Regions from separate parts of the Homo sapiens genome. Here region 2 is linked to region 1. The links come from fine-mapping of genetic effects on gene expression. Tissue or cell type: fibroblasts. Region 1 holds a variant in brackets; the other region holds the start of a gene. All regions are shown on one strand. Distances are from middle to middle.

Evidence for each region. PIP is the estimated chance that this variant, and not a neighbour inherited with it, causes the effect.
Region 2: RPA1 starts here. The variant in region 1 is fine-mapped to the expression of RPA1 in fibroblasts (GTEx, PIP above 0.99).

Annotation. Positions count from the first base shown.
Region 1 is chr17:1,893,274-1,901,593 of GRCh38, forward strand. RPA1 (replication protein A1) reads left to right here. Exons shown (of 17, transcript NM_002945.5): 16 at 1,736-1,822; 17 at 3,798-6,809. The coding sequence ends at 3,902. Among named protein-coding and RNA genes, the nearest start is that of RPA1, 67 kb to the left of the region's middle. The variant G/C (reference allele first, on the strand shown) is at 4,498.
Region 2 is chr17:1,827,276-1,832,275 of GRCh38, forward strand. RPA1 (replication protein A1) reads left to right here and starts at 2,730. Exons shown (of 17, transcript NM_002945.5): 1 at 2,730-2,851. The coding sequence starts at 2,819. It overlaps SMYD4 (SET and MYND domain containing 4), which reads right to left and starts at 2,627. Exons shown (of 11, transcript NM_052928.3): 1 at 2,451-2,627; 2 at 586-731. The coding sequence starts at 719. RefSeq lists a silencer at 2,479-2,998 and an enhancer at 3,626-4,126.

The sequences.
Region 1 (8,320 bases):
ATTTGACTGTTTTTTCTGCCGGTGAATGAGGACATATAGAAACTTCCCCGAGGAACCGTGAGATCCTGGAGTTCGCACTCCACGCCCCTCATCTTGGAAGCATAATGGCAGCCGGTGTAATTTTCTCAAGCTTTAACCCATTGTTTTATTTTCATATCTGAAAGTCCATTTGGTTTGGGTTTGGGTTTTGATCAAGTAACCTTTACAGAAAAGAGTTCTGTATAGCAAAGCTGCTTTCACGCCGTGCGTGACTTGCAAAAAACACTAGGTTGGTGTGAACTATTAATTAGTTTTTCTTTTTTTTTGTCAAAGGTCTCAATCAACTCTGTTAATATAGTTATTACACATTTATTTATGCATCTTTATACAAACTATATTCTCTAATTCTTGTCTGTTTACCAGACTTTTTTTTTTTTAATAAACTTAAATTGCATTTGAGGAGTGAGAGAGGGAAAAGGATTGTTTTTAGGCCTTCCCTAGCCTTTGCGCACCTCAACAGTCTTCTCTGCTTGCACACCAAATCAGTAGCTATAAATACAGAGGCTGAAATCACGAATTATATTGAACTTTCTTCTGAGTGTTTTTCCTTTTTTTCTTTTTTTTGAGACAAGGTCTTGCCTCATCACCCATGTTGGAGCGCCGTGGTGTGCGATCATGGCTCACTGCAGCTTCAAACTCTTGGGCTCAGACAGTCCTGCCACCTCAGTCTCCTGAGTAGCTGGGACTACTGGTACACGCCACCATACCTGGCTTAAGTTTTTTTTTTTTTTTTTTTGGTAGAGATGGGGTTTTGCTATGTTCCCCAGGCTATTCTTGAACTCCTGGCCTCAAGCAGTCCTCCCACCTCGGTCTCCCAAAACATTGGGATTATAGTCACGCGCCACCATACCTGACCTCCTAATTTTTTTTTTTTTTGAGAGTCTCGCTCCATAGCCCATGCTGGAGTGCAGTAGTGCAGTCTCAGCTCACTGTAGCCTCCGCCTCTCAGGTCGAAGCAATTCTTCTGCCTCAGCCTCCCTAGTACCTGGGATTACAGGCACCTGCCACTATGCCCAGCTAATTTTTGTGTTTTTAGTAGAGATGGGGTTTCACCGTGTTGGCCAGGCTGGTCTTGAACTCCCAACCTCAAGTGATCCACCCGCTTCCGCTTCCCAAAGCGCTGGGATGACAGGTATGAGCCACCGTGCCCAGCCTTAAAGTCTTAGAAACTTCCTAAGAGCGTTTTTAATTTTTTGTGTCTAGTAAAGCATACATAACCAAATTTGCCTTTGTAACCATTTTTACGTGTACAGTTTAGTGGCGTTAGGTACATTCACATTACTGTGCCCCTGTCACCACCATCCTTTTCCAGTACTTTTTTAAATAGGCAAATTCATAGAGACAGACGACAGCCTTGTGTTTTCCAAGGATGGAGGGAAGGGGAGAATGGAGACACACTGTTCATGGGTGGCGATTTGAAACTCTGCACATTAAGCAATAGCTCCTTTTCCAAAACCCTCTTCTCCCTGGCCCTGACAACTGCCATTCTACCTTCTATGAATGTGATTAGTGTTTTAATTTTCAATAAGATTCTACTTAAAACAGTTTCATGTAATGTTACCTGTAGATGAGTCATTCCTAAGTAATTTGAAACTACCCAGGAGATGCATTTTCAGAAGTCTTTTTAAAAGTCTTATCAGTATTTGCAAGTTGTCCAGTGGTTTCCATGTGTCAAGTTTTATGTTTGTTTTTGCAGAATGAACAGGCATTTGAAGAAGTTTTCCAGAATGCCAACTTCCGATCTTTCATATTCAGAGTCAGGGTCAAAGTGGAGACCTACAACGTAAGTAAGGGCCTGGGCAGCAGGGTTGGTGGTGGGGAGGTGCTGTTTGTCACCTACGGCAGTGTCGTGACACTCCCTGGCAGGGAGTTACTGTACTCACTGCCAGACCCCGGTGCTGACTTTGCCCAACACAGGTGCTGTTATGATCCCCATTTTCAGATGAGGAAGGAGAGAGAGCTTAAGTGTCTTGTCGAAACAATGGCGGGGGGGTGGGGAATACAATATGGATTTTTTTGTTTGTTTATTTTTTTTATTTTTATTTTTTTTCAGTTAAATCCTAGGATTTTTTCGTCTGTGTTCTGACAAAAAAATTATAACGCATGCAGTAGAGTCATATCTTTGACAAATTTAGATTGTAGAAAAGTATATTAAGTATATGAGCCGGGCGTGGTGGTGTGTGCCTGTGGTCCCAGCTACTTGGGAGACTGAGGCAGCAGTTCAAGGCCAGCCTGGGTAACATAGTGAAACCCCGTTTCTAAGTCAGTCAGTCAGTATATGAAACAAAGGCCACGTGTGGTTAAAACTACCTTGAAAATTCCTGAAATTGCCCATAATACCATATAGTATTTATTTATTTATTTATTTATTTATTTATTTATTTATTTATTTGAGACAGAGTCTCTGTCACCCAGGCTGGAGTGCAGTGGGACGATCTTGGCTCACCACAACCTCCGCCTCCCGGGTTCAAGTGATTCTCCTGCCTTAGCCCCTCGAGTAGCTGGGATTACAGGCGCCCGCCACCATGCCCGGCTAATTTTTGTATTTTTAGTAGAGACGGAGTTTTCACCATGTTGGCCAGGCTGGTCTCGAACTCCTGACCTCAGATGATCCACCCGCCTCAGCCTCCCAAAGTGCCAGGATTACAGGCATGAGCCACCGCGCCCAGCTTAGTTATAGTTATAATCAAACAGTATTGAGCATGGTCTGCCAGGTAACTGTTCTACATCCTTTACGTGGAACATCTCACTTGAGCCTAGTAACCCTATATGTAGAAACTGTGGTTACCCTATTTTGCCACTGAAGGAATTACATACAGAGAGACACGGGCATTCAGAGAACAAGTCACTTGCCTAAGTTGTATGCTAGCAAGTGGTCGAGCTAACGTCCAACCCAGGCAGCCTGACTTCAGAGCTTTGCTTTTGATCATGCTTACGAGTATCACGGGATTTAGTACCGACCAAGCACACAGCAGTGTGACAGCCCCGAGCTCGCCTGTGCAGCCTTCCTGGGTATCACTCCGTTCTGCCCGGAAAGGCACCATTCAGGCCGTGAGTGTAAACGTACGAGTGGGCAGGGGGAGTGGTAGAAACGCCCCTGCTGATTGCAGGGTTTACTCACGTATTTACCTTAACGCCCGTTCTTCTGCGACTACTATAAACATTAAATGAGATAGGGGATCAGATGTCACCGTGAAACAATGTCAGGGAGTGGGGTGGGGCTGGGGGGGATTTTTGGGGCCATTCAGCCCCATCGTGTCTGGACAGGGAAGGTGAAGTGAAGAGAGGCTGCCTCCCCAGAGCTGAGACAGGACAGACTCGGTCCTCTCCCTCTGCTGCAGGTGCTCTTCCTTTCACCACTCAGCTTTTCTTGAAATGAAAGTTTGAAAGTTTAGCTTTCAGAACTAGCTGTGTGGCTTTGTGCAAGTCACATGTCCTCTCTGGGCTGTATCCCCTGCAGTAGGGAGAATAAATGAAACTAGAGAAACCCTCTAAAGTCCATCTCACTAGGATTCTAGGCTTCTGGGTGTTTGGGAGCTTGGGTAAAGAATCAGAAGGGCCTGTGCTGGAGAAAGGACCTGTTCACTCGCCCAGCCCCAGACATTCAGGAGGAGGCTGTCACTCACTGGAATGACTGAACTCTGAACCCGTGCGTCTGTTCCCTCCCGCTGGGCTCACTGAAACCACTGAAGCAAAAGGGGTTTCACTGCTCCACACCACACTTTCACTGCTCACAAACTACTTCTCCCTTTTTGAAGGACGAGTCTCGAATTAAGGCCACTGTGATGGACGTGAAGCCCGTGGACTACAGAGAGTATGGCCGAAGGCTGGTCATGAGCATCAGGAGAAGTGCATTGATGTGAGAGGAGCAGTGCCAATCGGGCAGAAGTTTGCAAATAGGCAGAATGGAATCGATTTCCTCCCACCTCCGTGTGACGATCCCATGTTAGCTACACAGTGCAGAGGCTCTTGATGGTGGACTAAGCAATTTCCCCCCTCGTGCGCATCTCAGAACCCATCGGTAGGCAAAGGAAAATACGCTCAGGTGGTTGTGGTGTAGACTGTGTCAGGCCTACGGAGTCAGCCAGTGGCTAGCGCAAGACCAGTCACTCCCTCTGCCTTCAGGCTTCTGTCAATTTCATTATCATCAAGCAGGAATTATGTCGTAAGTCACTGACCCTAACTGCAGACCATGAAGTAAATTATGTAACTAGGTTTTTGCTTCTCCAGTGGTGACCACCCCCCCCCATCCCCGCTCACAACTTGGGTTCTTCTCAGCGGGGCGAGCTGAGAAGCGGTCATGAGCACCTGGGGATTTTAGTAAGTGTGTCTTCCTAGAATTCGAAGGCTCTCTCTTTCTAGAGGTGCTACATAGTTGGTAATGCTTGGAATGGCAATAGGGTAGAATGATTAATCAAAGGCATATCTTCTATATCTGAAGAGTATCCTTCCTTCAGG[G/C]TTTAATAGACTGAGTCAGATGGGTCTGATATTAATCAAAATTGTCTCTTCTGAGGACCGCTGATAAGCATTGACTTGCCGTCCCCTAAGGAAATCCGAGCGGCTACAAAGCGTTTCTTTACTTCTCACTTCAATTAATGCTGCGCTTCGCTTGGTGAGTGCGTACTTTTTCTACCTGTACACATTCCTGCATTCATGTATTTTGTTTTTTTTGACTAAAGCTATGTTACATGGAAAGGATTTTGAAGCCTTTTGTTTCCCTTGCTTTGTTTTAATAAACAGTATATTCTTTGGTTGTGAATCCTACTTTCTTTGAATGCAAAGAGTTCCTATAACTGGAAAGCAATTAATTAGCCTTCATAATAAATGTTCACTTGGGGGGGATGTTAACTCATTATAAACCCGAAGATTAGTCCAAGGCATGGAGATCCTTCTTCCTAGTGTTTGCAGCCCTGAAATGCATCTTTCAAAGCATGAAAACACTAAAAACAAAAAGCCATTTTGCCTGAGGATGCTGATGATCTGGCACTTGGGATTTTATTGATGTTTACGCAGCAGTCTAACACCAACCACGCTTTGAAATGTGTACAGACAGTGAGCTGGTAAGAAAACAGTAATTATGCTAGTGGGCCTTTCAGTCAGCAAAAGCATGCTCGCTCTGTGTGTTCCTAATCATATTAATTATCTATCCGGTGGCTGCAACACACCGCCTGCCATTGGCCGCACATCTCGCCGTCGTACCCCGGCAGTGCGGCGGTCACTCTGCAGCCAGAGGACCTGCTGTTCATCACTGCACATGCCGCCTGCGGAGGCTTTTGGATATGGGGAGTGATGGTGTCCTGTCTGTCTCCCCCCTCGGTGTCTGCCGTTGACATAGGGGCCAGCCAGCCCTAGACGGGATGACTTCCGTTCCTGAGGACAGACACAGAGGGACTCCTGCTCAGCCTCACTAATTGTTTAGACACATTCCTTCCTACCCTTCTCTAGTCTCAGGAGATGGTAACTGGGTCGCATTTCAGTCTCTGACTGAGGCCTCAGCCATTTTTACGGAAGTTCTTTTCTGTCTGACCTTGCTTATAAAGCATCGACGAGAAAATTACAGTCTTCAACCCTCTTCTGGATTGACAAATTGTGGCTGGGAAGTGGCGATCTAGCTTTCAGCCCAGTAACCAGTCTTTCATGCCTACTACTCCCAGCATTCCCTCCTCTCCCCACGTGTCTGTCCACACAGTGAAGAGGCCTGACCAGCCGTGGTACCAGGACAGGACGTGTCCAGGGAACGCTGACACCTGTCCTCGCGCCTTCTCAGTGGCCAGCGTGATGAAACCAGCACGTCTCCGTGGATGTGATTGGGAACCCAGGGGCAGTGCCAGGGGGAGGGCTCCCTCGAGGAGGCTGTTTCTAACAGATTTCCCCACTCAAAGATCAGATCACCAGCAGAGGAGCATCAGAAACTGGCTCCACTGTTGGGCTTTTCAGAGATTTTGGTCCCTGCGGGTTGCCTAAATAGATTCTGGCCCACAGTTTACCTCGAAAGGCTGTTGATGTTGTTCTGTTTCTCCTCTTTCACTTAGAGATCAATGTTGATTTTGCGTACACCATGACATCAGCGTTAGGCAATTAGGAGAAAAAAATCTAATCATTTCGCCTTTATTTCAAGTGGTTCTTGAATTCCCTCCAGTCTCATTGTGAAAGGGGCAGGGAAAAAAATAAAAGGGTAATAATCTGATTTCTGTCCATATTTCCAGTGTTTTATGCTTTCCATTAAAACCTTGCTAATCTCTCGCGTGCTGTTCCTTTTTTGAACTGCAGGGTCAAAAATGTTCCCCTCCCCCACTTCTGTTTCCTGAGTGGGCTGTCTTCAAAAAGTATAAATACTATTGATCGTGGTATTTAATACACTAATGAAACCCATGGTTATTGACTACATAATTAATATACTGTCCAAAAGTGAAGTTTGGCCGCCCAGTATGTAAAGGTTTATATTGACTCATGTTTCTTTGGCAATATGCCGCCCAAGGTTTTATTTATAGAGGATGAAACAGGTTGTTTGGTCTCCTTTTCTTCTTTTCACCTGTTAGAAGGCCACTATTCCCCTAGTAAACTGATTGTTTCCTTGTCTCAAAGGGAAGATTCCCCCCACTCCCCGGCCACCTTTTATGTGGTTTGTTAACTCTTAGTCTTATATCCACTCCGCTGGTAGAGTTCTGGCTTTTATAAACACCTTTGGAAGTCATCGGTTCCTCAAAAAGAGAGCATAGATGTTTAATTTTCACTTATTCAAAAAAACTGGTATTTTTGTTATTAAGACATTAAGTAAATGTTTAAGAAAAAAAAGGATAATTTGGACTATTGACTTTCTTATGCAAGTAATCATATTTGTTTGTTTGTTTGTTTATTTATTTTGAGACGGAGTCTTGCTCTGTCACCCAGGCTGGAGTGCAGTGGCACGATCTCAGCTCACTGCAACCTCCGCCTCCCAGGTTCAAGCGATTCTGCCTCAGCCTCCTGAGTAGCTGGGACTACAGGCATGTGCCACCATGCCTGGCTAATTTTCTGTATTTTTAGTAGAGACGGGGTTTCACCGTGTTAGCCAGGATGGTCTCGAACTCCTGACCTTGTGATCCACCTGCCTCGGCCTCCCAAAGTGCTGGGATTACAGGTGTGAGCCACCGCGCCCGGCCTCCATGTTTATTTTAGGAAAATAATCTACAGTTAAGAAAAACAAAATTGGCCTGGCACAGTGGCTCATGCCTATAATCCCAACACTTTGGGAGGCTGAGGCGGGCAAATCGCTTGAGCCAAGGAGTTCGAGACCAGCCTGGGTAACATAAGGAGACCCCCGTCCCTACAAAAAAATAAAAATTAGCTGGGCGTGGTGGCACACACCTGTAGTCCCAGCTACCTGGGAGGCTGAGGTGGGAGAATCACCTGAGCCGTGGGAGGTCAAGGCTGCAGTGAGCCATGATTGCACCACTGCACCCCAGCCTGGGCGACAGAGCGAGACCCTATCTCAAAAAAAGGGGGAGAAAGGGTGGGTGCGGTGGCTCTCCCTTGTAATCCCAGCACTTTGGGAGGCCAAGGCAGGTGGATCACCTGAGGTTAGGAGTTTGAGACTAGCCTGGCCAACATAGTGAAACCCCACCTCTACTAAAAATACAAAAATTAGCCAGGTGTGGTGGTGGGCTCCTGTAATCCCAGCTACTCGGGCAGCTGAGGCAGGAGAATCACTTGAACCTGGAAGGCAGAGGCTGCAGTGAGCTGAGATCGCACCACTGCACTCTAGCCTGGGCGACTGAGCGAGACTCCATCTCAAAAAGGCAAAAGAAAAATAAAATTACTTAGGATTTCACCAACCAGTAATAAACACTTGTGTAGCTGGCTACTTTTTTCTTCTTTTTTTTTTTTTTTGAGACAGAGTCTTGCTCTGTCGCCAGGCTGGAGTGCGGTGACACGATCTCAGCTCACTGCAACCTCCACCTCCCGGGTTCAAGCAATTCCCCTGCCTTGGCCTCCCAAGTAGCTGGGACTACAGGCATGTAGCTGGACTACAGCCTGGTAGTTGGGACTACAGGCATGTGCCACCGTACCCAGCTAATTTTTTGTATTTTTAGTACAGATGGGGTTTCACCATGTTAGCCAGGATGGTCTCGATCTCCTGACCTCGTGATCCGCCCTCCTCGGCCTCCCAAAGTGCTGGGATTACAGGTGTGAGCCACCGTGCCTGGCCCTGGCTAGTTTTTTCTATGTATCTATGTGTATAGAGTTTAAATTAAAAATGGTAGCATAGTAAGCATATCATTTTGTAATGATTTTCTCCTAG
Region 2 (5,000 bases), 68 kb before region 1:
AGGCAGTGGGCTGAGATTGCGCCACTGCACTCTAGCCTGGGTGACAGAGCGAGACAGTCTCAAGAAAAAGAAAAAAAGAAAAAAAAAAAAAGAAAAACAAATACAAACACGGTCCCTTCCCTCATGAAGTTCACAATCTAGCGGCAAAGGCAGGCATTAGTCAAAAGAGCACACACATATATAAAGGAAAATCACACAGCATTGTAAATGTACAAAGAGTGAAGATGGCCCAGCTGAGGCTCAGGGAGAGCTTTCCTGAGGAAAGATCTGGCTAATCCTGCAGGATGACAGAAGTGAATTAGTTCACAGGACACGCTGGGATAGAAACGAACCAGGAAAAGTACTTCAGGCATTTTCCATCAAAAAGAGATGTTACCAGGCCAGACATGGTGGCTCACGCCTGTACTCCCAGCACCTTGGGAGGCCAAGGTGGGAGGATTGCTTGAGCCCAGAAATTTGAGACCAGCCTGGGAAACAAGCAAGACTCAATCTTTATTTAAGAAAAAGACACATTACTTCAGAGCAAATGACAAAATAGAACATTTTTTGGCTCACAATTCCCTTGTTAAAGCTTGATTTACTTACTGAAGAAGTGAAGAGGAGTGAAGAAAGATATCCCTCAAGGTCTCTGCTGTAGAAATTGTGACCTGAACAGACGTCGGGAGTGAAGCCCACTTTTGAAGCAGATATGATTTCCATTCATCCACAGGCAGATCCATGCTGCTTTTGATCTATAAAATGAGTAAGAAAATAGGAATCTTACAAATGCACAATTTTAGAAAATCAAGAGTTCAGCCAGGTACGGTGGCTCACACCTGTAATCCCAGCACTTTGGGAAGCCGAGGTAGGTGGATCACGAGGTCAGGAGATGGAGACCATCCTGGCTAACACAGTGAAACCCCGTCTCTACTAAAACTACAAAAAAATTAGCCAGGTGTGGTGGCGCACACTTGTAGTCCCAGCTACTCGGGAGGCTGAGGCAAGAGAACTGCGTGAACTGGGGAGGCGGAGGTTGCAGTGAGCTGAGATCACGCCATTGCACTCCAGCCTGGGTGACAGAGCAAGACTCTGTCTCGGAAAAAAAAAAAAAAGGAAAATCAAGATTTCATTCAAGGAAGCCTGAAACAATAAAATCAATTCTTGTGGTCTTTTCCTCTAGTTTATATGCTAAGGAAGGATCTATATTTTCTCACAGCAATTCACTCAACATCCTTCCATTCAGAAATATTTACTGAAAGACTACTTTGTCACAGGCACCATGCAGGTGATGGTTATACAAAGACGAAGCAGACTAGATAGCTACCATCTGTGCTCTTAGATCCTCTTTTTTTTTTTTTTGTGAGGCAGAGTCTTGCTCTGTCACCCAGGCTGGAGTGCAGTGGCACCATCTCGGCTCACTGCACCCTCCGCCTCCCAGGTTCAAGCAATTCTCCTGCCTCAGCCTCCGAGTAGCTGGGATTACAGATGCGCGCAACTACGCCCGGCTAATTTTTGTATTTTTAGTAGAGACGGGGTTTCACCATGTTGGCCAGGCTGGTCTCGAACTCCTGACCTCAGATGATCCGCCAGCCTTGGCCTCCCAAAGCGCTGGGATTACAGGCGTGAGCCACCGCGCCCGGCCTGATCCCTCTCTAGTTTCTCTGAGACACATCCCAGATTTTTCTTTCTCACCCACCCCAGCAACTATTCATTTAACAAGGTATTTCCCTCTCTTACATAGTTCAGCGTTCTGATTAAGTCCTCACCATCTCGTCTGGCATTCTTCCTAGAGTGTTATAATTAATGTCCATGCCATTGGCACCACTCCCCACTTTCAATCCAGCCTCCAACACTGAGACAGAAGTCAGTGCTCTGCCCTTAAATTCATCAACGCTACTCCAAGCATACCAGGAAGCCCAGGACAAAACCATCCTTACTTGACCCTTGTCTGACTTTCTAATTCTCAGGTGTCACTTACTCCTCTGCATGCACCCTTGCATACTGAACAACTCATTGCTATCCCCGGCTTGCCAGGCTATTTCAACTCTCCAATGTTTTGGCATAGGCTACTCATGCTTTCCGGACCAACCCTACCCTGGCTTATGGAGTCCACCTGGAAAATTCCCACACGTTCTTCGACTCGGCTCAAATGGCACCTCCTCCGGGACGGCGTCCCTGATTTCCCAGCTGTGATTCCAACACCCTTGGGGCCTGTACCACGTCTACCTGGAGGTGGGGTTACTGACGGCATAAAGTGCCCCCACACACTGTCCTCTTCTCTAAGGACGGGGGCCGGGTCTGATTCCCTTTCGGAGACCCCCCACCCCCACCCCCCACCGCCACGGTGCCAAGCTCAGGGCTTGGAGGCGGGAAGTCAGCCCCGCGTTGCTGGACGAATCGGGTCACTACTGCGACTCTATTTAGCAGCGGAGGTCTCAAGGAACAGCTTTAACCTCCTCTGGGATACCAACCCGTGCACTCGCCAGAGACCGAGGCGAGAACGCCTCGAGAACCGCTCAGACGCGCCCGGAACTGCGCCCTGGTCTCCCTCCCAGCGCCCGCGCAGCTCCTGGCGCGCCCCTTGGCGCCCCGCTCCGCCCCGCACCGCGTCCGGCGTCCCGCGCCAGGCCTCGCTTGGGACCATGGGTGGGTCACGTGGGCCGCGCCTCGGCCAATGCGGCGGCTGCGTAGCGCCCGGGCCCGCCCCTGAGCCGCGCGCACGTCGGGGGCGGGAGCGGTGCGCGCAACTTCTCGGGCCAATAACTGCGCAGCGCGCGGGACCCGGGTGGGGAAGCTGGAGCTGTTGCGGGGTCCGCGGGGAAGTCTTGGCGGTGGAGCCATGGTCGGCCAACTGAGCGAGGGGGCCATTGCGGTGAGGAGGTGCCGGGGGCTGGGCCGGCGGTCCGGGGTGGCTGCGGCCCCGAGCCTCGCGGAGTAGAGAGGGGGAGGGGAGCCCGGGGCGACGGGGGATGAACGCGAGGGGAGGAGATGGCGGGGGGCGGTGGGGACCCGCCGGGCGTCCCTCTAGTGTCATCGCCCCCTCCTCAAAGCATTCTTTCGATCGTCTTTAAAACATGCTCACATTTTTCCTACGTAAGAACAAACTAAATAAACGCTTGCCTTTCTCTGCATCTTCCACCTGCGGACACTTTCTGTCTCTTCTCCTTTCCCCACCCACAGCCAAACTTCTTGTCTGGTTTCAGCCACTTCCTTTCCTCGCCTTTCATCAACTCTTTAACCCACTCCAGTCATCCCTTTGATCGCTGTAGAAAACCCTGGCTGAAGGTACCAGTGGCCTCCAAGTTGCTAAATCCAGCCCTTTTCCGTTTTCAGCTTACCTGAGTTCTCAGCAGCGTTTGCGTTTAAGCCCTGCTTGCTTCAGGTCACACCCTCTTCCTTGGTTTTTAGTGGCTCAGCTTGGCAGGTCTATCCCCGTCTTATTTGTAAGTCCCTCTTTGTAAATTTTTGTTGAATCAAGGCTCCCTCTAGGCCCTCTTGACTCCCGAGGCAATTTCTTTTTTTTTCTCCAGCCTGGGCGACACTCACTGTCGCCCAGGCTGGAGTGCAGAGGCGCGATCTCGGCTCACTGCAACCTCCGTCTCCCGGGTGCAAGTGAGTCTCCTGTCTCAGCCTCCCGAGTAGCTGGGACTACATGTGTGCGCCACCACACTCGGCTACTTTTTGTGTTTTTATTAGAGACTGGGTTTCATCATGTTGGCCAGGCTGATCTCGAACACCAGACCTCAAGTTATCCGCCCGCCTCGGCCTCCCAAAATGCTGGAATTACAGGCATGAACCACCGCGCCTGGCCCCAAGGCAATTCCATTGCCATCTATTAATATATGTCAGTTGCTCACAAATTTCTTTGTACAGAGCCACCTTTACTCTAAAAGACAAACTTCCGTCATCTGTCTGCTTATTCCATGCTTCAGAGGGTTTTAAGTTCAGTATACGTATCCCAAAGCAAATTCTTTATCTTTCTAAGTCTGGGCCTCTTGATCCCTATCTCCACGGATGGCACCATTATCTATTCAGTTCAGTGCTAACCAGAAATTGAGAAATCATTCCTCCTATATTGTCCATTACCTGGGCATCCAGTCCCTCACGAAGTGAAGTGTATTTTGCCTCTGCGTAGATCTATCAAGCCCACTGGCTTCTCTCCATCCATACTGGCACCGTCTTTTTTTTTGCCTGAGCTGCTGACTTCCACTCAGCATACGTTCCTGCCACCATTCCCATCCACAGCATACTCTCAGCCTACCTCTCCAGTCACCCCCACATTTTTTTTTAAATTTAGATTTCTGGTATATTCCATACTCCTACCTTCTTCCATGGGGCCTTTGAACTTTTTTTTTTTTTTTTGAGCTGGAATCTTGCTCTGTTGCCCAGGCTGGAGGGCAGTGGCGCGATCTCGGCTCACTGCAAGCTCTGCCTCCTGGGTTCACGCCATTCTCCTGTCTCAGCCTCCCGAATAGCTGGGACTACAGGTACCCGCCACCACGCCCGGCTAATTTTTTGTATTTTTTAGTAGAGACGGGGTTTCACCGTGTTAGCCAGGATGGTCTCGATCTCCTGACCTTGTGATTCGCCCGCCTCGGCCTCCCAAAGTGTTGGGGTTACAGGCGTGAGCCACTGTGCCCGGCCTTTTTTTTTTTTTTTTTTTTTTTTTTGAGGCAGAGTCTCACTCTTTCTCCCCATACCCCCCCACTACCGCCCCAGGCTGGAGTGCGGTGGCGCAATCTCGGCTCACTGCAACCTCTGCCTTCTGGGTTCAGGCAGTTCTCGTGCCTCTGCCTCCAGAGTAGCTGGGATTACAGGCATGTACCACCACACCTGCGTAATTTTTTGTATTTTTAGTAGACACGGGGGTTTCACCATGTTGCCCAGGCTGGTCTTGAACTCCCAACCTTAGGTGATCCACCCTCCTCGGCCTCCCAAAGTGCTGGGATTACAGAAGTGAGCCACCGCACCCGGCCCTGAACATTTTTTTCCCTCTGCCCACTGCCTGGGTGGTTCTTCAC